3 separate regions of the Homo sapiens genome follow, and regions 2 and 3 are each reported to be linked to region 1. Evidence: microRNA targets listed by miRTarBase, many of them from high-throughput screens and not tested one by one. Region 1 holds a microRNA gene; each other region holds the end of a gene's coding sequence.
The links. Region 1 holds the annotated microRNA hsa-miR-548t-3p (AAAAACCACAAUUACUUUUGCACCA, at 5,152-5,176, shown strand). A microRNA usually pairs through its seed, bases 2 to 8, with sites in the 3' UTR of a target mRNA and lowers its output. Matches are read on the target gene's strand: a 7mer-m8 pairs with bases 2 to 8, a 7mer-A1 pairs with bases 2 to 7 and ends in A, and an 8mer does both.

Region 1 (8,132 bases):
GAGGTTCCCATTTGTTCAAACGCAATTTACAAACAAGGGGGCAGATGGGACCCATTAGTAGCTGAAACTCACAGCAACCAGTGCCTAGTAAAGGATTCATGCAGGGCCCTCCCACACGACCCAAAACAGCAAAGAGAAAGGGCCAGGTGTTGGCCTTTTTCTAACTCATCCCTTTTAACACAGTAAGTTCAGCAGTCCTCTAAGAGTCCCACTTCAAAGTACCCCTCTTGCCTTCCGAATTCAGTGTTGTTAGCCCTTTTGCTTGAAAAACCCCCACTCTTGGACACAGAGGAAATAGGAGTCAGATGTCTGCACCTTCTGCACCTGTGGTTTGAACAGGACCCTCTGGGAGTCGCAGGAGGAGTGCTTGGCCCTGGTGCTTGGCAGGAGGTTGGGCTGGGAGATGATGATTGCCTTGATCCTCTCTTTCAACTACTTCATTCCAACTGTTGGAATACCTCAGTAGTGAGTATTAATTTTCTTCCCCCCCAAATCCAGCAAGCAATCTAGCTCCTTAAGAGAAGACTATGTTCCTGCTATTAACAGGGCTTTGACTGTTTTTGCAAAATAATAACTGGGCATTCTTGTGTTAAGGACCATTTGTTTCCTTCACCTGCTTTTCTTCCCAATTTAGCTGAAAAGGGACCTGAGCCAGTTAGGAGATTTTTTTTTTTTTTTTTTTTTTTGAGATGAATCTTGCTCTGTCACCCAGGCTGGAGTGCAGTGACATGATCTCGGCTCACTCTCAGGTTCAAGTGATTCTCCTGCCTCAGCCTCCCAAGTAGCTGGGATTACAGGTGTGCACCACCATTCTTGGCTATTTTTTGTGTGTGTGTGTTTTTAGTAGAGATGGGGTTTCACCATGTTGGCCAGGCTGGTCTCGAACTCCTGACCTCAGGTGATCCACCCGCCTCAGCCTCCCAATGTGTTGGGATTACAGGCATGAGCCACTGTGCCCCGCTGGAGACTTTTTTTTTCTGAACTAAAATATCTTTTCAGATACAAGGTTCAGGGAGGGTGGTGTGGACCAGTGAGAGAAGTTTCATTTGCACCTTTTTCATTTTTATTCTGATCCAGAGTGACTGGAGTATTAATGGATGTTGTCATAGGCTTTTGAAGTGGCCTTGCTTGGTGATTGAGTGGCTCTCGCAAAATTCTGAATTTTGGAACCAGGTATTGCTTTCTAGCTATACTAACATGTCCCTTTAGGAGTCTAATGAGATCTGCTTTGCCTCTGCCCCAAACAGATTTGCTTTACAAGTTACTGTCACTCAGGGCAAGCTCCAAGCTCTGTATCTAAAAAGCAAAGCCACCTGCCAGCCACAACCAGGTGCATGTTGCCTTTGGGCCTTGTGTCAAAATATCTTCATCATCTAAGAATAAAACCCCCAAAGAGGTCAGCCTGATCTTGTAGAAAGCCGTCCCTGGGAAAATGATTAAATGTCAGTAAACAAGAGCATTTCAGAAACTGACATGGTCCCTAATGTTTGTGTTTAGAGACTCCTAATGTGTCAGAATTGAGTTGGAGACTTACGATGTAATTGCATGTCTTGTATTTCATGCCAGCCTCTCGGCTTGGTGCTGGGGCAGAGTGGGAAGCAGACCACAGAGCAGAGAGGGCCTCTGCCCTTTTATTGTCCTGTGAGAGAGATGGATATTCACAAATAATCCTGTCCCTAATTAATTGCAGCTGAGATAACCATTATAAAAGAAACTAGAGAGTGTGACAAGGGGTGACTATCTCTTGGTCTTGGTTGTCAGGCAATGCTATGGAAGGGTTATTTAGAGTCGTAGAAGTGTCTAGTACAACCACCAGCTGATGAAGATAGTACAGGAGGAAGCAGGCATGTTTGAGACATGGTGAGTTTCAGGCTCAATTAAGGAGCTGGAGATAGCTACCAGCTGTTAGCAACACTGGGGGCGTGCAGGAGCAGCATCAGGGACAGATTTGGGAGTCCCTTGGGGAAGCCGTGGTGAAGCCACAGGAATGAACAGGTGGCTTTCTTTCCTTTTTTTTTTTTTTTTTTTGAGATGGAGTCTCACTCTGCCGCCCAGGCTGGAGTGCAGTGGCATGATCTCGGCTCACTGCAAGCTCTGCCTCCCAGGTTCTGGCCATTCTCCTGCCTCAGCCTCCCGAGTAGCTGGGACTACTGGTGCCCACCACCACGCCCAGCTAAATTTTTTTGTAGTTTTAGTAGAGACGGGGTTTCACCGTGTTAGCCAGGAGGGTCTCGATCTCCTGACCTCGTGATCCGCCCACCTCAGCCTCCCAAAGTGCTGGGATTACAGGTGTGAACCACCGTGCCTGGCCGCTTTTTTTTTTGAGACGGAGTCTTGTTCTGTTGCCCAGGCTGGAGTGCAGTGGCACTATCTCGGCTCACTGCAACCTCTGCCTCCCAGGTTCAAGCGATTCTCCTGCCTCCACCTCCCAGGTTCAAGCGATTCTCCTGCCTCAGCCTCCCAAGTAGCTGGGATCACAGGCACCCACCACCACGCCTGGCTAATTTTTGTATTTTTAGTAGAGACGAGGTTTCGCCATGTTGGCCAGGCTGGTCTCAAACTCCTGACCTCAGGTGATTCGCCTGCCTCGGCCTCCCAAAGTGTTGCAATTACAGGAGTCAGCCACTGCGCCTGGCCCAGGTGACTTTCTTGAGAGAGTATGGAGAGGGATCTGGGAGAATGTCTGGATGAAACCTTCTTTAAGGGCCTGTCACCTACATGCAATAAAGACCATACTAATTGTAATAAGACCATTGTTTACTTTTTGTTCCCCAACTGGTGCAATTTTCCCAGTCCCTGTAGTAGCCCCAGGATGGCTCAGAAACTGTCTGGGTTCCTGCTGTAGACACTGTGAGAACTTCCTTTCCAAGTGTAGCCAAGCACCCGCCCCACTGCTGCAGCCTGTGCCATCCTCCCCCTTCTCTGCACACATTGCATATCCCTGTGGTCTCCGTTTTGAGCTCAGAGTGTGGGCCTCCAACCCTCAGCACCGTATCACTCCGTAGCTTATTAGAAATGCAGAATCTGCAGCCCCCGCCCAGCTTGCTGAATCAGCCTCTGTGTTTTAACAAGATCCCCGGGATCTGTCTGCCTGTTGACAAGGGAGAAGCCTGGTCTCGGTTACCTCCTCCTCAGCGTCCTGAGCCTGGCTGGATCGCCAGCACACTCAGACCAGCGGCCCCAGGCTCTTGTGACAGCAGCCGTCAGACCCGTGGGAGTTCAGGTGCGGGTCATCAGGGCCCTGCTGGCTACTCCACCTCTCTGGGTCCCTCAGCTCAGAGATTCCACTTGAGTGTAGAGAGAATTGTTCCCCTCTGCTCTGGTGCCCTCTTTGCACTAATGTTTAGGGACCTAGAAAGGGCATCAGGAAATAAGACAGAACAAAAGCCACCAAGAGGAAGAAGGAAATTCAAGTGCCATAGCTATAGAGAGGCTCAGGAGGATAAAAACAAAGCAATAGCAGGGGCTGAGAGATTTTTTAAAAATCAGCTTTACTGTGATATATAATATATATATGTGTGTGTATATGTATATATATAATTTTTTTTTGAGACAGAATCTTGTTTTGTCATCCAGGCTGGAGTGCAGTTGTGCAATCTCAGCTCACTGTAACCTCCGCCTCCTGGGTTCAAGCGATTCTCCTGCCTCAGCCTCCCAAGTAGCCAGGATTATAGGCACACACCACCACACTTGGCTAATTTATGTATTTTTAGTAGAGATGGGGTTTCACCATGTCGGCCAGGCTGTTTTCAAGCTCCTGACCTCGAGTGATCTGCCCACTTTGGCCTCCCAAAATGCTGGGATTACAGGCATGAGCCACCACACCTGGCCATATTGTGATATAGCTAACATAGAATAGAACTCACTTTAAGTGTACAGCTTGATGAGTTTTAACATATATATACACACACTGTAGTCATGTAACCACTGCCCCATCAAGATACAGAACATTTCATCACCCCTAGAACTTCCCTTGTGACTTTTAGCTGTCAATTACTTCTCTCTACCCCCCACATTCCCCACTCCTGTTCCTAACAAGCACTGATCTGCTTTTGCACTAAAGTCTTGCCTTTCTTAAAGTTTCCTATAGATGCAGTCATACAGATGTAGTCTCTTGTGTCTCACTTCTTTTGCTCAACACAATGTTTTTGAAATTCATCCATATTCCCCGTCCGGGAGGGAGGTGGGGGGGGTCAGCCCCCCTGCCCGGCCAGCCGCCCCGTCCGGGAGGTGAGGGGCACCTCTGCCCGGCCGCCCCTACTGGGAAGTGAGGAGCCCCTCTGCCCGGCCACCACCCCGTCTGGGAGGTGTACCCAACAGCTCATTGAGAACAGGCCAGGATGACAATGGCGGCTTTGTGGAATAGAAAGGCGGGAAAGGTGGGGAAAAGATTGAGAAATCGGATGGTTGCCGTGTCTGTGTAGAAAGAAGTAGACATGGGAGACTTTTCATTTTGTTCTGCACTAAGAAAAATTCCTCTGCCTTGGGATCCTGTTGATCTGTGACCTTACCCCCAACCCTGTGCTCTCTGAAACATGTGCTGTGTCCACTCAGGGTTAAATGGATTAAGGGCGGTGCAAGATGTGCTTTGTTAAACAGATGCTTGAAGGCAGCATGCTCGTTAAGAGTCATCACCAATCCCTAATCTCAAGTAATCAGGGACACAAACACTGCGGAAGGCCGCAGGGTCCTCTGCCTAGGAAAACCAGAGACCTTTGTTCACTTGTTTATCTGCTGACCTTCCCTCCACTATTGTCCCATGACCCTGCCAAATCCCCCTCTGTGAGAAACACCCAAGAATTATCAATAAAAAAATAAATTAAAAAAAAAATGTAAAAAAAAAAAATGTAAAAAAAAAAAAAAAAGAAATTCATCCATATTATTGGATGTATCAATAGTTTGTTCCTTTTTATTGCATAGTAGCATTCCCCTGAATGGATATACCACAGTCTGTTTATTCATTTACCAGTTGATGGACATTTGGGTTACTTCCAGTTTTGGATGATTTTGAGTAAAGTTGCAATGAACATTCACATACAAGTCCTTGTGTGGACCTACGTCTTCATTTGAGAGATTTTTTTCCTTTTAAACTTTTTATTTTATTAGGTTGGTGCAAAAGAAACTGTGGTTTTTGCCATTACTTTCAATGGCAAAAACCACAATTACTTTTGCACCAACCTAAATCTTCCCTCTCTCTGGATTTGCAATTATTCTGTAAATCTAAAGTTAACTTTAGCTAAATCAGGTTGACATCATATACCCCCTAAAGTTAACTTTAGATTTACAGAAGAGTTGCAAATCCAGAGAACCCCCCGTAGTCTTCATCCACCTTCCCCCAATGTTAATATCGTACTAATTATGATACATTTATCAAAACTCAAAAATTAACATGGGCACAGTTGTATTAACTAAACTCCCGACTTTCTTCAGATTTCACCAGTTTTTTCCACTAATGTCCTTTTTCTGTTCCAGGATTTAATCAGGATATAATGTTGCACTTAATTATTATATCATAATAGTCACTTTCAATCTATGTCAATTTCTCTGTCTCTCCTTGTTTTTTTATGACTTTGACATTTATGAAGTGGGCTGGTCAAGTATTTTGTAGGATGTCCCTCAATCTGGATTTGTCTGATGTTTTCTGATCATTAGACTGCAGTTGGGGTTTGGGGAAAGAATACCCCAGAGGTGAAATGGCCTTCTCATCACATAATATTAGGGGGCACATGATATCTACCTGATTGCTCACTGGTGAAGTTAACCTTGATCACTTGGTTAAGGCGTTGTCTACCAGAGTTACCCACCGTAAGCTGCTAATTTCCCTTTCCATACTCTGTTCCAGGGGTGTCCAATCTTTTGGCTGCCCTGGGACACATTGGAAGAAGAATTGTCTTGGGCAACACATAAAATACATCATTAACACTATGACAGCTGTTGAGCTAAAAAAAAAAAAAAAAAAAAAAAAAAAAAAAAGGACCGGGTGCGGTGGCTCACACCTGTAATCCCAACACTTTGGGAGGCCGAGGCGGGTGGGTCACGAGGTCAGGAGATCGAGACCATCCTGGCTAACACAGTGAAACCCCATCTCTACTAAAAATAGAAAAAATTAGCCGGGCGTGGTGGTGGGCGCCTGTAGTCCCAGCTACTCAGGAGGCTGAGGCAGGAGAATGGTGTGAATCCAGGAGGAGGAGTTTGCAGTAAGCCGAGATTGCACCACTGCACTCCAGCCTGGGTGACAGAGGGAAACTCTGTCTCAAAAGAAAAAAAAAAAAAAAGGTCTGTGCATAAATATCATAATGTTTTAAGAAAGTTTATGAATTTGTGTTGGGCCACATTCAAAGCTGTCCTGGGCCACGGGTTGGACAAGCTTACCGTCTATTCATTAGAAGTGAGTCACTCAGGGGAGGGAGATTAGGCCCTGCCTCCTACAGGGAGGGGTTTCAAAGAATTTGTGGACATATGCTAAAACCAGCACCATAATTAATGTGGTATTTTTTTTTTTTTGACGGAGTCTTGCTCTGTAGCCCAGGCTGGAGTGCAGTGGCCTGATCTCGGCTCACTGCAAGCTCTGCCTCTCAGGTTCATGCCATTCTCCTGCCTCAGCCTCCTGAGTAGCTGGGACTACAGGTGCGCACCACCATGCCCAACTAATTTTTTTGTATTTTTAGTAGAGAAGGGGTTTCACCATGTTAGCCAGGATGGTCGCGATCTCCTGACCTCGTGATCCACCCGCCTTGGCCTCCCAAAATGCTGGGAATACAGGTGTGAGCCACCGTGCCCGGCCAATTAATGTATTTTTATTATTTTAAAAGTTATTCTTATTTTTAGAGATAGAGTCTCACTATGTTGCCCATGCTGGTCTTGAACTCCTGGGCTCAAGCTGTCTACCCACCTCGGCCTCCTAAGTGCTGGGATTATAGGCGTGAGCCACTTTACCTGGCCTGCTTGTTTTTTTGAGACAGAGTCTCGCTCTGTCGCCCAGGCTGGAGTTCAGTGGCACAATCTCGGCTCACTGCAAGCTCCACCTCCTGGGTTCACGCCATTCTCCTGCCTCAGCCTCCCGAGTAGCTGGGACTACAGGCGCCCGCCACTACATCCGGCTAATTTTTTTGTATTTTTTTAGTAGAGACGGGGTTTCACCGACCTCGTGATCTGCACGCCTCAGCCTCCCAAAGTGCTGGGATTACAGGTGTGAGCCACCGCCCCCGGCCCTGGTGTGCTTTTTAATATTTTTTGGAGATGGGGTCTTGTTATGTTTCCCAGGCTGGCCTTGAACTCCTGAGCTCAAGTGATGCTCATGCCTCAGCCTTCAGAGTAGCAGGCATTACAGGTGCATGCCACCTCACCTGGCTAATAAATGTTTTTGGAGGGATGTGTTGAGCCTATGCAGGTATCCTGTTTCCCCTTAAAGTTTGCCCATGAACTTAACATTCCTCAGTGGACCCTGCCTGCAGCTATTATTACTGTAATGTTCTCCTGGTGATTTTCTATTCTCCCATGCCTTCTGCCTTTATTACATGGAATTCTTCTGTAAGGGAAATTTGTTTCTTCTCCAGGTATTTGTTTATCTATCCTCTCATTTATTTATATCAGTGTGGACTCACAAGTACTTATTTTATTCTCTGGGTGAGAGATGTTTTTAAGATGGGAAAATGGACTACTTTAAGTTAACCTAACTGTGAGCCAGGTAGCAGGAGGTGTGGGGAGGAGGAGCATAGATGCTGGGGGAGGAATGGGCGGTGGATGGAGCGAAGTTCCTAGGAAGGTCAGTGAGAAGGAGATCCGGAGGTGGGGGTCTTGGCAAAAACAAGGGACACCCTGTTCCCACAAATGGGTAAGAGGAAAGTTTGGGAGGGTCGATTTCCATGTCAGGAAGGAGAACTTGAAGGAGTTCCAACTAATTAGCTTTTGTCTTCTCCGTCAAGATGTTTTCTGTGACGACAATGGGAAGTTGACTTTTGGAATTTTAATTGTCTTGGCCAAAATTCCTGGCCTCTAGAGTAACGTTTCTCAACCTCAGCCCTGCCGACATTTGGAGCAGATAATTCATTGTTGTGGGAGCCGTCTTGTGCATTGCAGGCTGTGTCGCAGCATCCCTGGCCTCTACCCTCTAGATGCTTTAGTGCCCTCTC
Region 2 (8,132 bases), not on the chromosome of region 1:
TTATCTCCAGCAACATTAGCATAGCATAGGTAATACGTGGACTGGGCATTTGAGAACCACTGTTGTAGCTATTTCCTACTCATCCTTCAGTTGTTATTCCCTCAGAGGAGACTTTCTGGTTCTCCAGACTGGATTCTGTCCCGCTGGTTACACACTTCAATGGAACCCTCCACTTTTCCATGGTAATGCTTTTCACAATTGAAATTAAATACTTGCTATATGTAATTATTTGTTTAATGTGTGTCTCCTTCACTAGGCCCTGGACTTCATGAAGGGCAAAAATAGTGTCTGGTTTATTCACTTTTTTATCCCAGCACAAGGGCACCTGGCACACGTAGTTGTTCAATAAATATTGAAATAATGCATAAAAGGAAGCAATCATGTATGTAAAGTACCTGGTACATTTAATAGTAGCAATAACATTTCTCAAAATCATGCAGTTGCTATTGATAAACTAGCTTATGTGATGTTATGGTATTTAAATCTATTTGATTTTCATTTTAAGGTGAAAATTGATTTGCAAGTGACCATGCCTCACAGCTACCCCTATGTAGCATTGCAGCTGTTTGGACGGTCATCTGAACTTGACAGACATCAGCAGCTACTTCTCAACAAAGGTCTCACTTCTTACATAGGGACTTTTGATCCAGGTGAGCTCTGTGTATGTGCAGCAATCCAGTGGCTACAGGACAACAGTGCATCTTATTTCCTGAACAGAAAGCTTGTATATGAACCATCTACACAAGCAAAGCCAGTCAAGAACACATTCCTCCGAATGTGGATCTACAGTCACCATATATATCAGCAGGACCTAAGGAAAAAGATTTTGGATGTTGGGAAAAGGTTAGATGTGACTGGATTTTGCATGACAGGAAAGCCTGGTATAATCTGTGTGGAGGGTTTCAAAGAGCACTGTGAGGAGTTCTGGCACACAATTAGGTACCCCAATTGGAAGCACATTTCCTGTAAGCATGCTGAAAGCGTGGAGACAGAAGGAAATGGTGAGGACCTGCGCCTTTTCCATTCTTTTGAAGAGTTACTCCTTGAGGCTCATGGTGACTATGGATTAAGGAATGACTATCACATGAATCTGGGCCAATTCTTAGAATTTCTCAAGAAGCACAAAAGTGAGCATGTTTTTCAGATACTATTTGGTATTGAAAGCAAAAGTTCAGACTCATAAAAAGCGATTAAGAGGCCTATGCCTGTAATTTCACTAAGTCAGTATTTCTGTTAATAAGACCAAATTAAAAAGGCTAGTGGCTGTGTAGCATCCTCAGTGCAAAACCCAGCTCCAGAATTTTCACCTGGTAACGAATTTCAACTGACAGTGAAATGAATAGGCCTTTAAACTTTATAACATTGCAATTGTGATGTTATCTCTAGGTTTTTGTGTGAAGTCATTCAAAAACTATTTCATTGTAAATTAATAAAAACAATCCATTTAACTTGTGAAGCTGATTTGATTGAAGAGGAATCCAAAGCCCATAACTAACATCAAAAATCAAACTGCAATTATGAATTGAGAAATATGAATAGCATTTGTTTCACATTGCTAGCACACATGTGACACACCCACTTGTCTTTCATTATTGGAAATCTAAATCAAGTTTAAAATGAGAACAGGAAGGACATGTTTACTTCCTTTTTTGAGACGGTGCGATCTCGGCTCACTGCATCCTCAGCTTCCCAGGTTCAAGCGATTCTCCTGCCTCAGCCTCCCAAGTAGCTGGGACTACAGGCGTGCGCCACCACGCCCAGCTAATTGTTATATTTTTAGTAGAGACAGGGTTTCATCATGTTGGCTAGGATGGTCTCAATCTCTTAACCTCGTGATCTGCCTGCCTCGGCCTTCCAAAGTGCTGGGATTACAGGTGTGAGCCACCGCGCCCAGCCCGTTTACTTCATTTCTTACTTTAAACTCCTATTTCGAGTGTTTTAGTAAAACTAGATCCTAATAGCAGTGGCAAAGGACTCATAGACATGAAGTCCCACGAGTTAAAAGATGACACACAATGCTATGTGTTCTGGCTGTTTATATCAGTTCATGATACTAGCAATCCTGATACCAGTATTAGTTTAATTCTTATCCAGAAAAGATAAACACATGGTTCCTTGTCTACAAAGTATTCGCCTGTTTCAATCCAACCTTTGCCTGTGTGCCAGTATGCATTACTATAAAGGGCAAGAGACTGTTGAGGGGACCAGTGTGGATATCTGCATCATTACCTTATTGGGAAAAAAAAAATCTAATTCTACAGTCCGATGATGTTACTGCCATCTCCTCTGAAAATTCCAAGCTCCACAGGCTTCACCAGGCTTTTCAAAATGAGAGTTTATTTTAATGATTAAAAACCGCTATTTAAGTAGCTCTTGCCAAGCCTTTTCATTACCAGGTCTCCATCCCTCCCCAAGTATTTCTGCGAGTCTCATGTGCTAAGAGATGTCTTGAGCAGCCTCTGCAGCTTTCCGTGTTTCTGTGGTCAGCTACTGCTGCCCTTTCCCGGGAGGCATTCCATTCTCCTACTGGGTCCTCTCAAGATGCCAAAGCTTGGTGCTGGGATTTAGGAACACATCCTGTTAGATGTCAGACAGTGCTGCTTGTGCTGGGGAGCCTACAGAACTTCTGATGAAACTACCATCTGGTTTTACCCTCTGTGCCGTGGATGCAGACGTGTCCTTGGGCTACAGAGAGGACATGATGGAGCAGGAGGCCCTATCCCAAGGAGGTGTTAGAACTGGGTCCACTTTGTACTGCCTCTTTCTTCTTAGGTCACAATGAGTGTCCTCTCAGGGCACAACTCAGATCTTCAACCCATGGCTCGCTGTAGGCCTGCCCCGCCAGGTCCTCCAGCTTGCCATTCATGTTTCCATCCTAGCCTTGGTTGTGCTGGAACTCAGGCTGGAGCCTGACACTTTGCCTATATGCAAAGGGAAGAAATAGGACTTACATTGCCAAGGAATCACTTCTTAATGTTTGCCAGCACTAAAAACAACAAAGTATAGGAATCTTTTTCCCCCACAGTCTCCACAAAGCTATCAATAAGTATAATTCGCATTTACAAGTTTTAGGCCTTCAACAGATGTAACTCCATCCAAATGAATCAATATGTGCCATCAACCTACCTTATAGAGGTGTTTTTCCTGATTACATGAGCAAAAGTAGCTACAGAAAGATGGGTGTAAAGAAAAGGCAATAAATTCTAGGTTATGAACTCTACTGCTTCTGGAGCTATTTCTGAGATTTTTCAGAACCTACTTTTTTATAAATAAGTCTAATTTGAGCATTCTGCAATACTTTTTTTCCTATCAGGAAAACTAATGCAGATAGTATTATGGGGACGTGTAGGTTTTATAGAAAAAAAAAGTACATGTATAATTCAAAACTCAACTTTGTATGTATAGGAGTCTGCTGGTTGTTTGCACAGCCTGATATGAGCACATAATAAAAGTCCGTCATTCCCCAACCCCCTCCCCCTACACACACAGCTTATTTTGGGAAACTGCCCCTTCCCTGTGTGATTTGGGAAGAGAAAGTGATAGGAATCAAGTTGTCCTCTGGCAGCCTCCTGGAGAGATGGCTGTGAGCTCTTGCTGCTTAAACCTCTAGTGCCACCCTCATTTCTGACCTACTGAATGCTCAGCTGTTTGGCATTTCCTTTGAATGACCCAGCATCTTCCCTTTTGTTGTCGGAAATCAGAATCAGTCTCTATTGCTTGTAACTTAAGAATCTGGATATTCTGTTTATTATATTCTTAAATGGTTATTTGGAAAATGTGCTCATTTATAAAAGTTACAGTGTCTTTTTAAAGTTTGCTGAAGTAAATGAAGCATATCGTCAAGTATGTTCTTTGCTTTTCATTCCTTACTGGTCTATTATGTGTTAGGCTAAGAGCTGAGGACACCTGCATAGTGAATTGAGTAGGCCAGATGAGTTGGCAGACCACAACACAGGGACCTCTAAAACATTCCTTATTAAATCAAACATACATTGCCTGTGAACTTGAGCGTTCACATATAACTCCTTACATGCCATCCATCCCCTCTCAGAACCTGAGAAGGTTCTGATGGTGTCTGTCTGCAGCCTTCATGGAACCCTTTTGAACAGGTTTTTTTCACTTGCTTTTATCTCAAGTAGCCCAGTAGTAAGTCAAAAGAATAGTTATTGTCTGAAGAGGGCACAGTGTTGCTCACACTTCCTGGTTTTATACATAATCCTGATTTGCCACAGAAACTCTGAGCCCATTGGCTTTCCCTCATAAGGTCCACATGGTGGAACTAATTTCACCATAGCCTGGACCAGCTAGAGAGACCTCTCTTTCTGATCCCAGTCAAAACTAGATGCATTTGGGTCAACCCCCGAATGAATTTGAGCAGGGTACACAGAATTTAAGTAAGCCCACTGTATTAGCTCATTCTTATGCTGCTAATAAAGACATACCCGAGACTGGGTAGTTTATAAAGGAAAGAGGTTTAATGGACTCACAGTTCCACATGGCTAGGGAGGCCTCACAATCACAGCAGAAGACGAAGGAAGAGCATAGGGATATGTTACATAGGGGCAGGCAAGAGATCTTGTGTAGGGGAACTCCCCTTTATGAAGCCACCAGATCTCGTGACACTTATTCACTACCACGAGAAGTATGGGGTAAACCACCCCCATGATTCAATTATCTCCACCTGGTCCTGTCCTTGACACATGGGGATTATTACTATTCAAGGTGAGATCTGGATAGGGGCACAGCCAAACCATATCACCCACCAAACCCTGGGAGTTCTCCTTAGTTATAGAAGGAACAAAGTACACAATTTGTTCCTCACAATGAAGGGGAAATCCCAGCATGTACCAGACACTGGACTTCTACAAAACTTGGCTGCAGGCTCTGTGCTTTCATGGGATTTATCGTTCACCCTCTGGGATGACACATCTTACTAGGCATCCAGGAAACATGACTCCATTCTCCAAGTCCAATCAGAATATCACCTGGAGGCATACAGCATGCTGCCCTGTATAGTGGTAAGCTGATCAAAGGTCTGATATCGAGACTGATATTCTGACATAGAAAGTTAATGTAATGTTGGAAAAAGACAATCTACATTGCTGCTTACTGAGATAAAGAAAATGCTTCAAGTGGTCTTTACTTACTGGAATAAAGGAAAAACAAAAAAGCATTGACCAAATCAGTAGCCAGCTACTTTCTGATTTGCTCCAAGAAAAAAGAACTTATATGACAGCAGCTGCAGTTGGAATCACCATCTGCTTAAGTTTCGGAATATGTGCAGCCATTCTATTTTTTTGAGACGGAGTCTTGCTCTCTCGCTCTGTCACTCAGGGTGGAGTGCAGTGGCCCAATTTCAGCTCAAAGCAAACTCTGCCTCCCGGATTCAAGTGATTCTCATGCCTCAGCCTCCCAAGTAGATGGGATTACAGGTGTATGCCACCACGCCTGGCTAATTTTTGTATTTTTAGTAGAGATGGTTTTTCGCCATGTTGGCCAGGCTGGTCTCGAATCCTGGCCTCAAGTGATCTGCCCATCTCAGCCTCCCAAAGTGCTGGGATTACGGGTGTGAGCCACTGAGCCCAGCCTGTGAAGTCATTCTTAGAGACCCATCTGTCTCCTCCTACATATGCCAAAGATCATGCTAAAGCAAGATGTGATAAGAATCACACTCCTGCTGCTTTCAAAGCTTTTGATGGTGGGACTCATCTCTGCAAATCTCTTCATACTTCCTGAGAGAATAACCCTCTTTTTATGGATCAGGGATCCAATGTGGGTATATTGCCACAGAGGATGAAGAAATAAATTATAACTCTTTACTGGAAAAATAAGTGGGGGATGGGTTTATTCCTATAGCATATACTTTGTTCTATAGACCACAGTGGTTTCAGAGACCCGAGAAATTTATATTTGTTCAGAGCTGTTCCCAGATGACCTCCAAAAGGCCTAATAGTTTTTCCTTTCTGCAGTGCATTGTTATCTTAGCAAATGGGAGCCTCAAAAAAGATTTTGGAAACATTTATGATATAATTACAGAGTTCTGCATCTTTAGGGGTCTTTCATTCATATCTGTTTGTGGCAATTTGGTGACACTGTATCTTGGTGGCTCCAGTCAGGCTTTTCTGCTATTGTTATATATATCAAGTGGGGCGTATGTTGTTGCTAATGTATTTGGTCCTAGGCCAGGCTGGGATATAGCTGGTATGTACTGGCATGGCTGTATCAATTTTATACAATGGTATCAATTTTTCTTGGTTAGTATGTATGCTGCCTCATTAATTTTTTGAACAGCATTTCAGGCCAGGAGGCCCCGTGTTATCCACAACCAAGGTTTCTGTGGGCTGAACTCTTGATTACACTGGACCTCCTCCTATTACAATCACTGTTTTCACCTTGTCTCCAGTTGTTAATTGCTACTAAATGCTATTAAGCCTGTACCAAACCCAAGAGTCTGATTTCTCCATTGAAATCAGGAAAGCCTTTTAACCATAACATTTTCCCAAGCCTTCCTAGCTTAAAGAGAAGTATCATTAAAATGCTTTTCATGGATGTTGGTACTCCCCTCACCAGTGTTATTTCTCTCAAGGCCTTAGTGAAAGGAGGGTCACTGATAGGTCCTCCAAGGAGACTTAGGAGATCAATAGATTAGGACAGTCATATTGCACACAACAATTCCACTCCAACATTCCTATCTTTGTAAATATTTGAATGGCTTTATATTATTTAAGGAATGTTTGCATTCTCAATTTCATTTAATGTGGACCCTTATTAAGTTCATGTTTCACTCAACTAACTGAACCAACAAGTAGAATCACCCCCAGCTGCTCAAGGCAGCGCACAGAATCCAGAATCTGTGGCAAGTGTACCCTATCATCATTTCTGCCTTATCCAAAATTACAGTTCTCCTTGTGAGTGTAACGTTCTGAGAATCCCACACATTTTTCTCTGGGCTTTTGCCAATATATGTGAGCAGAGTCTAGAATTTTTTTGGCGTAAGTCTCCTCCTTCTGGATTTGCCTTTTAAATTACTAGCCACCACAGCCCTTCTCATGCTGGAATCTGATTTGGGGTGTACGGAAATAATGTGAATAATGGAGGAGGAGCGTAGGCCTCCCTTTACAATTGGTTTCTCTTTACAAGGTAATTATTACCTCAGGTGAGGTCATTACAGGATCTTCTAGCAAGGCAGTAACAACTTCTTTAGACGGGAAGAGATCCTGCTTTGATTAGCAAAGGAGAACATGTCAACTATCCCAGTTTTCCTGGGACTGAGGGGTTTCCTGGGACACAGGACTTTCACTTCTGAAACCTGGACTATTGTTCTCCCTAGTTTAGGATATTATGAGTCCTCCAAATCCCCTTCCCCATTCCAAATCAAGGTCCTACTGTTTCTTGGTCAATACTCTAAGTTTGACATAAGAGGCCTAATGAGGATGTCAGTTTAACTCAGGGTATTAATATAATTTGGCAAGCAGCAAGATTAAGTATGACCATGGTTTTCAATTATTTCAGCATTATAACTAGAAAGAGAGAAAATATGTTGTTAGCAAAAACATGGGGCTTTTTCTGGTTTTTAGATTGAGAATTCAGTCTAAAATTTTTGAGCTGAGGATTTCAGACTCAAGCCTAAATTATCTTTCTTTATGTATCCATCTCTGCTAGAAGCAACCACCGCAACTCACAGTCCTAGAATTCCTTGTCCTTTACACTGTATTATGGCAGCAGCCATCTGATCCACCTAAACCTTCCCTTCCTTAGATAATATATCCCATTTTACCTCATAGTTGTGTTTATGAGGTCCCAAACATATTTTGCTACATTGATTTTCATTAACTTTATATTTTTACCATTCATACCTAGGTCTCTAATCGATCTGGAGTCTACCTTTTCACATAGTGTAAGGTAGGGTTCTAGTTTTAATTTTCTCCATGTTGTGGGCCAGTTTTTCCAGTCCTTTTACCAAGCATTCTGTTCTTTATCTATTGATTTTTGTGCTAGCTTGCCGTATTAGTCCGTTCTCACGCTACTAATAAAGACATATCCGAGACTAGGTAATTTATAAAGGAAAAGAGGTTTAATTGACTCACAGTTCAGCATGGCGGGGACGTCTCAGGAAACTTACGATCATGGAG
Region 3 (8,132 bases), not on the chromosome of region 1:
GATGTAGGTAAAACTCCCCACCTGGTGTGAACTGTGTAACCCACTTTTAAAATCTAAGCAACGTTCTTCTGAAAAGTTATTTGAAAAATCAAATAGATTCTCCTGTTTCTGCAGTAATACAATCCTATATGAAGGCAGAGAGGGATATTAGAACTACTATTCTTTGCTTCCTTCAGATTCTCCTTGGGAAAGGAGAGAGAGAGCAGCAAGGTGGGGGTGAATTCTGAAGGCTGGGAGCTTTGTTTCTGCTCAGTCACTTCCGCTCCCATTAGTCTCTAACCTTGGCCAGCTATTTAAAAAGAACAAAAGAAAACAAAACAAAAAACAAAACAAAACCAGCAGTAGCAGCAGTAATAACAATAACAATAGCCAGAATTTACTGAAGTTCACAATGTGCTGGTTACTGTACTAAGTGATTTACAGCTATTCTTTGCCAACCTGCGCAAGTTACTTAACTTCTCTGTGCTTTAGTTTCTTCATTTGCGAAGTATAGATAATAATAGCATCTAATTACTGTGATAATCAACTGAGTTGATATATGAAAAGTGTTTAGAACAGAGCTTGATACATAGTAAGTACTTAATAAATAATAGTTATATTTTTATCTCATTTAATCTTCGAAGCAAATCTTAAAATGTTGCTACTACTTATTCCTCAATTTACAGATAAGCAAATTGAGACTCAAAGAGTTTAACTGATTTGCTTAAGACCATAGAGCTGGTAAGGGCCAGAATAAGGACTTAAACCTCCAAATGTCCCGCTTTTTAACTTCTACACCATGCTGGCCTTCCCAGTTCAGTACCTAAATCCCAGCCACACCACATAAACTTCTCTGATTAGTGAATCCCTATGTTGAACACATTATGAGCTTTCAAATCTCATTGCCTTTTGCTCACCTTGTTATTCCCTCTATCTGAAATGACTTTCTCAACTTTGTCAAGCAGATTAAATTAAAATTATCCTTCAAGACTGAGTTCAAGTGTCACCTTTTCTATCTCACCTTCCTGCTCCCACTTTCACAGAATTAATTGCTTGTTTGTGTTCCTTTAACACTTATCTCACATATCTTCTTTACAGCACTTATCACATCATCTCATAATTTGTTGATGTCTCTGCTGCTAGATGGTGAACTATGAGAGGGCCAGCCCCTCATACGCAGTAAAAAATGAAATTTATTTAAGATGTCAGACTCTGCTAAGGGCTTCACAAGGATGCACACTCCCTGAATCTTCTCAAAAACCCTAGGACATATGTACCATTGCAGTCCACTTTTTACTGATGAGGAATAGAAAGGTTAAATAACTTGCCCAAAATCACACATGCAGTAGATGCGCAATAAATGATTGTTGTACTGAATTGTGTCTAAGTAAAAATGCTTAAGAAAAATGTTCAAAAATTCCCTTTTTCACAGAAGAAAATGATCTTTTAACTTTTAAATTTTTGGATGAAAAAGAACAAACTCTTTTTTCATCTATTTAGTCAGATTTTTCCCCCTGAAAGCTATGAAAAGGAACAATTAACTTTAGCTAGTTCAAGCTCAAGTGTCAATTCAGCTTTAAAAATTATAATCACTTTTCCTTATATTGTAGGATTATAGTCATCTTCCTTATATTGTGGGATAATGAATGACTTGTTTCCTTATCCCATAATCTTGAATACCCTTATAAGTTAAATGTTACTTTATTGTCTGTCAAAACCACACAAACCAGGAAATGCATTACAGTATCAGTTTTAATATTTGTGTCAATAATCTATTATTTTCCAAACACAGAGAGAAGAAAAAGGAATTGCTTTCTGCCTCCAAGCTGAACTTGGAACCTAGGTCTTTCTGAGCACGATGTTGTCCTACGTCCCCAGAAGGAGCCAAGGAGGCAGCTATGAATGTCAGGTGTGAATAATTCAAAACCCCAAACCACCTGTGGCTTTGAGGCCTTTTTTTTTTTTTTTTTTTCAATTACTCAGAGGGAAACACAGTCTCCTTGATTTCCTCTGGGGACCTTTCAGGGAGCCAGTCCTTGTAATAACTGCCTGTTATGGTGAGAGGAAAACTGGCTTTAAAAGCCTTTTAACCCAAAGGGATTGAGCAGCTAATGGACATCATCCCTTTGGCAAAAAGGGATGATGTAAAACTCCTGCCCCATTTTAAAAACCAGGACTTGTTTATATAATCTTTTCATACAGTTAAAGCTTTTTTGGTTTTAATATATTATTTAGAGCCTGTTACATTGCAGCATAAGGCAAAAACAGTTATCAAAACAACAACAACAACAACAAAAACTTCTCTCTACGTTGCTCCAATTCAAATATGCCTTTAACTTATTTGACTGTTTTGACTGATGGCCAAAAAAGAAATTCCAGTCATTTGCAAATGTTATTTTCATTTTAACCACTATACAGACTAATTATGAATTTTTGCATCAAAACTGAGCAATTCTACCATTTTAATGTGGTGTAAAAAAAGTTTCTGAGGGAATTAGAAAACTCACAGATGCTGACATGCCCACAGTTGACAATAACAACAAAAAATTTCAGCAGTAAACAGTTCTTAGTATATCCTGCAATTTCCATTTAAAACATTTATAAGAGAATATTAACAAACATGAAAATGATATATTTTTGCATAGAAAAATAAACTCACAAGGTTTTAGAACCATAAATAACCCACAATTCTGGTTACCATCTACCTTGATTAATGTCTTTAGCCAGTATTTGAAACATCACCATTTATCATCTTAGCTTCTTTCTTTTCTTTTTAATATGAAATTAATGCAAACTGCTTTTGTTTTAATAATAATAATACAGTCTATGCTACATATGGCATGAAATAATGAAACCCAGTAAATTTATCCAATAGTGAATACACAGAAGTGAAGAGTTTTGGCTCTGTTTGCAACTGTCCTACAGTAATCCCAGGTGCAACCCAACTCATTATGACACAGTTTAGCTGAAAAATGTAATCTGTATGGTTATAAATCAGTTTCATTGTACTTACAATAGAAGTAAATTTTGGAGGCCAAACCAAGTTTTCAGCTGATAGGCGATTAGGGAGTTTTATTGTATTCCAATTAAGGAGCAAAAAAAAAACATTGACGGGGTGGCATGCTTTAATAATAAAAGATATGCACCCTGTTTCACAAGTTACTTGGGAGGGCCCCCGCAAGTCATCGTAAGATGCACACAAATAAGTCATTCCTTTGATTGCATTTTACCCACGCATTTTCATCCTATCTTGCAGGAACATGTGAGTATGTCAGAAAAGACACCTCCATGTCTCTTAAAGCAATTGAAATATCTCTGTTTTGGAAGTGGATAGTTGGGATATGAAGGGAACTTTGGAAGGGAAAATAGATTTTGCTGTTATTATGTAGATAGAATTAACTACATGGGAGCTGGTTCTAAAATACAACACGCTGATTCGTGTAAGTGTGGGTGAAAGGTTCCTGGTGCTTTGAATAGAATGAGGGGGTTCCCTCTCAGTTGAGGGAGTATGTATAATATATACGAGATCCCAAATAACACTGGGCAAAGATAGGTGATAAGGCACTGAAGTGAAAATGGAGAACAGTCCATTTATGGCCATTATGACCAAGTTCTTCTTAGGGAATTTTTACCATATTAACACTCACAACTCATTGCTACTATGTATTTATTGTTTCTTTCCCACTAGATTAAGAAATCTAAATGAGAGACTGTTCTGCTTTGTTTTCCACTATGCACTCAGCACCAAGCCCAGCACCCAGCACATATTTGTTGAAAAAGTAAATAAATGAACAAACAATTCAGGTAGCATCCATGGAAGTTGAGGCAAATGGATAAGTGGCCATATTTATGTGTTAACAATCATAAATCAGTTAACTTCTATAGACAATCCTGGTGAGAAATCCAACCAGCTGATATCTGCAAAAGATAATTCAGTCAATAGATTATCCTATCTACAAATAATTTTTTCATCTAATCACTGTGGTCAATTTTGTGTTATTTAAATGGGGTCTCTGTGGAGAAATGGGCAAGTTACTCACCTCTTTCTGCCTTGGTTAATACCTGCATAGGATTCCACAGTCACAGACTGAATGCCTAGCTTCAGCCAGGCATCTCACAGATAAATCTATTACATGCAAAATGAACCAGATGAAATAGTACAGACGTATCCACGCAAACATATCACCACTATTATGAAAAACAATTTAAAGGCCGTTCAGCTCAGATGTGTGCTCAGTCCAAGAGGGAGACACATTATTATTGATAATCAGTCTCACAGGGAAGTTGGACACCCCCTGCCCCGCTACAGTGGGGATGTATTTTTATGGATTAAAGATTAATTACATTAAATACTGAATTTTGGAATGAGTGCTAAAATAGATAATGTGATTTGGTCATTAAGACACTGAAGCAGGTTTTTATTTTGTATGATTACTACTGTTACCAGTTGAGTTACAAATGGCATTGATTCACTGAGGATGTGTCTTGTCAACTGCTTCCTGCTTGACCTGCAAATGCCAAGTTAGTCAGGAGTAGGCTTAAATAAAAGTCACTGCAGTTCAGCCTGACTTACTGATTACTGGGGCTGGTTTCTTACCAAAACTGTGGGAATCGGTTATTCCAAATAGCTAGGTGGAGTCAGGCAGCTTCACGTGGCCGTTGCTCTTGACTCCTCAGTCCCCAACTCTTAACCCATATCTGTTTTCTTGTCTATGCAATGGTGAACCTGTTCTCTCTGGCCTTAAGATTATTGCTGAATTTTTTACTGATTGCTGGTGATATTTGAACCTCTAAGCAGAGTTAGTTATTATCATCATTGCAATTACGTTTCTACTATAAATTTTTTTGAGTTACAATCACAATGTTATCAGAACATCTTTTGATAACATTTCCTTTATTTTAGATAATGATTTCAGTACCAAGGAGACTTTATTGCTAGATCCAACTCACTGTTGTGCATTAAATTTTGTCTCAGATCTAATCAACTTTGGTGTAAAGTAAAAATGAGGTCAGAATGCTCACTAATTCATGGCTTGAGCTGTCCTTATAAGAGCAAAACTGAATAGTTGCATATATCATTGAAACATTTCATTGATTTATTTTCCTTATTTATATTGATATTCTCTTTACAGAAGTACTATAGCAATATGGAATTCTGTGTTATTAGATTCCTAATCTTAATTATCAAATACCAAAAAAAAATAAACTTCACAAAAACCAACCAATAAACAAAACAACAGAAAGCAAACAAAAATAATAACTTTTTCTAGTTTTGTCATAATGTTAGTGTAAACCATTCTTCTTACAAGTTGTATATTTAGAACCCCAAATTTCTATGGTACTATGCTCCAAATTAAAGTGTGATGTTTATATTAAAATTCTGAGCCAATTAACTAAGCAGGTACACATCTCTAAATACTACTGGCATTTAAGAATAATAGAGGGATGATTATAATAAACTACCAAATAATGCTTTTACAGATAATATTATGTCAGTTTATCAGCATTATGTTGATTATCATTCATACATTTCCAGTCTGGAATGTAGTAGCTACAAGAATCAAAAAGCAAAACCATAATAAAGCTAGTCTTCCTAGTTTGTGCTTGCCTCCCAAATTAAAAAAAAAGTTGTTATGTGCCAAAAATGTAAAACTTATTTCAAGAAAATTAACAGGCTACACGGGTAAATTTTGGCAAATGCAACTTTATATTGAAGTTCACACATCTGTATCTTAAAGAATGAGACTCACAGACTCTAATGTATTTCTAAAATACCAGAAATCATAATATAAGCTTTCACAAGTTAAAACTGAAATAATTTAAATTACCAATACACTGAATGTGCAGAAAGTATAAACAAGACTGTGCCTTCAGTAGAATAAATGCTTCACAAATTGTGCAGGATGTCATACTAAGGCTGTGGTCTCCCCTTGACAGCTGACTTAAAATATAAACATACATCAACTGCCTGCTTCTTAGAACAGTTTAGAAAGGGTAGCACACCGTAGAAGAAAATCTCATTATTTCAGTGATGTGCACTTTAAGTTTCAAACCATGTGAGAAAAAAGGAAAAAGTAATAAATGATCTTCCATGCACTTTTAGATGCATGACCATGACCAGTTACTGATTTGATTTCCCTTGGCTATTTGCTCCAGTGCTAAATAAGATGAAGGATACTAGATAACCCTTTAAGGCAACATGTATTTATTCTGCATTATTAGAACTGCTCAGTTGTGACAGGCTGGTACCATTAATGTTGCCTCCCAGACCAATATCTAGCATTTGTAAAATATAAATGAATTGGAAAAACTTTATACCAAATCAACAAAAACCACATAATACAGTTCAATGCTAGCAATCTTACTAGTAGATGAGGAAAGTGGTATTTAGAAATAGCAATGTATTAATACAAAAAAAGTAAACTCTAATTGGAACCAATATACTGCTTTGGAATGCTCCCCAGAACTTACAAGGCGGTTTTTAAAGTGTGATATTCCAATAATTCATTGGCACGTCTTTAGTGGATTACAGTACTTTAAGTCCCCAAATATTTTAGTCTTTGCAAAACAATAGTAGTATGAAATGTTTTAAAGTCTTCAAACTTCTAAAATTAGTTTTTATCAACACATTTACCTCATGTCAACTTAATTTATTAAGATGTCCAATGCTAATTGTTTTTTGATGTTTTTTCATATGTAGTGACATACAGAGCATTTAGCACTGATACTTAGCACCTGCTACTTTCATTATCTAGTTTTTGACCACATAAAGAAACTTAGGGCAGTGGTTCAGTCCCTTCTTAATTACAAACCTTTGCTGGCAGTCAGCAGGATCACTCTGAGATTTAAAATAGGATTATAGGTGAACTATTGCAAAGACTGCAGAATGTTGCCCAAATCCTTAAAACTGCTGATTCCATTCTTGAATTTCTTCTCAAAATATGGCTATGGGCCACAATTGCTCAGCAGAGAAGGTTAGTTTTCACAAGGCTAAAGATTTACAGATGCTCCCTCATATAACACAGTAAGGTTCCCTTGGTAACCTGGATTTTCTGCAGTAAAGAAGGGTTGTGCTGAAACAGCGCCTCAGCTCCCTGTTTGAGAAAATGCAGACAAAAGGATTGATTCCTGCTTGGGCAAAACTCATCCAGACAGCAGCTGTTAGAAATCCCCCTGGTACTACAGGCCCTCTTGCAAAAACTCTCCAATAACAGGCCACCAGGTAGGGGCCCCACAAGGTTAGAAACAGAAAAGTCATTATATAGAACATTCTGCTGATTCTTTTCTCCATTTTGAACTCGTCTAAGACCAATAGCCTTCTTCTGCCTGTGGTGTTTGCATTTTGCCTGATGCCCAGCAAGGTGGGTGGTGTGGGACCCCTTCCAAATCCTGCTAGCCAATTGGCAGCTGCCTGGCCACTGGCTCCAGGACCATGAAAAGTCCAGTTCTGGCTGACTGCTGCTACAAACTGGACTGGCTTCATTTTTCTTCGATCGTGGACGAAAAATATCAGCTTGAGGTAGACAAGCTGTGTGGCTAGGAGGATGAGAGCAAGAAGCAGCATAAATCCTAAGGAATCATTAGCCCTGAAGGAGCGGTGTTGGAAGGTGCATTGATCTTCCTCCCTAATGAATGAGTAAGTGCCCACGTCTAAAACCGGGGGAAATGCCATGGCCACAGACAGAGTCCACACCATACAGATCACAGCCAGACACGTCCAAAAGGTCAGCCTCTTTGTATAGAAGCGGTGATGGGCGATAGCTAAATATCTGGTGACACTGATGCAGAAGAGCATGAAAGCAGTGTGGAAACAGGACAAAACCCCCAGAAAGGCAATCACTTTGCAAGTCAGAGTCCCATAAGTCCAGGTAGAACCATTTTTGACAGAGTTGAACACAAATGGGAAACAAATTGCAGATCTGAGGATATCTGAACAGCAAAGATCCAACAGGAAGTAGTAAGGTGCTCTATGCAAGGTCTTATCTTTCACTAGCAAAATGGAGATCAGGAGGTTGCCCACCACGCTGACTCCTATTATGAAACCCAAGGAAGTCAGTTTCAGAAAGGCTGTTAGAGGCGAGAGATTTTGCAAAATGTTGTCAGCTGCATGGCTATAGTTCGCCATAGATGGATGGAGGATAAGGATACAGCCT

Region 2: miRTarBase lists RWDD2A as a target of hsa-miR-548t-3p. Seed matches in the 3' UTR shown: 8mer at 2,644-2,651 and 7mer-A1 at 3,349-3,355.
Region 3: miRTarBase lists GPR85 as a target of hsa-miR-548t-3p. Seed matches in the 3' UTR shown: 7mer-m8 at 6,308-6,314.

Annotation. Positions count from the first base shown.
Region 1 is chr17:67,466,392-67,474,523 of GRCh38, forward strand. MIR548AA2 (microRNA 548aa-2) reads left to right here and starts at 5,098; the gene lies at 5,098-5,194. All of the region lies in intron 1 of PITPNC1 (phosphatidylinositol transfer protein cytoplasmic 1), which reads left to right. MIR548D2 (microRNA 548d-2) reads right to left here and starts at 5,194; the gene lies at 5,098-5,194.
Region 2 is chr6:83,195,090-83,203,221 of GRCh38, forward strand. RWDD2A (RWD domain containing 2A) reads left to right here. Exons shown (of 3, transcript NM_033411.5): 3 at 506-3,846. The coding sequence ends at 1,183. Among named protein-coding and RNA genes, the nearest start is that of RWDD2A, 5.8 kb to the left of the region's middle.
Region 3 is chr7:113,076,618-113,084,749 of GRCh38, forward strand. It overlaps GPR85 (G protein-coupled receptor 85), which reads right to left. Exons shown (of 3, transcript NM_001146267.2): 3 at 5,668-8,132. The coding sequence starts at 8,104. The coding sequence ends at 6,992. Among named protein-coding and RNA genes, the nearest start is that of GPR85, 6.1 kb to the right of the region's middle.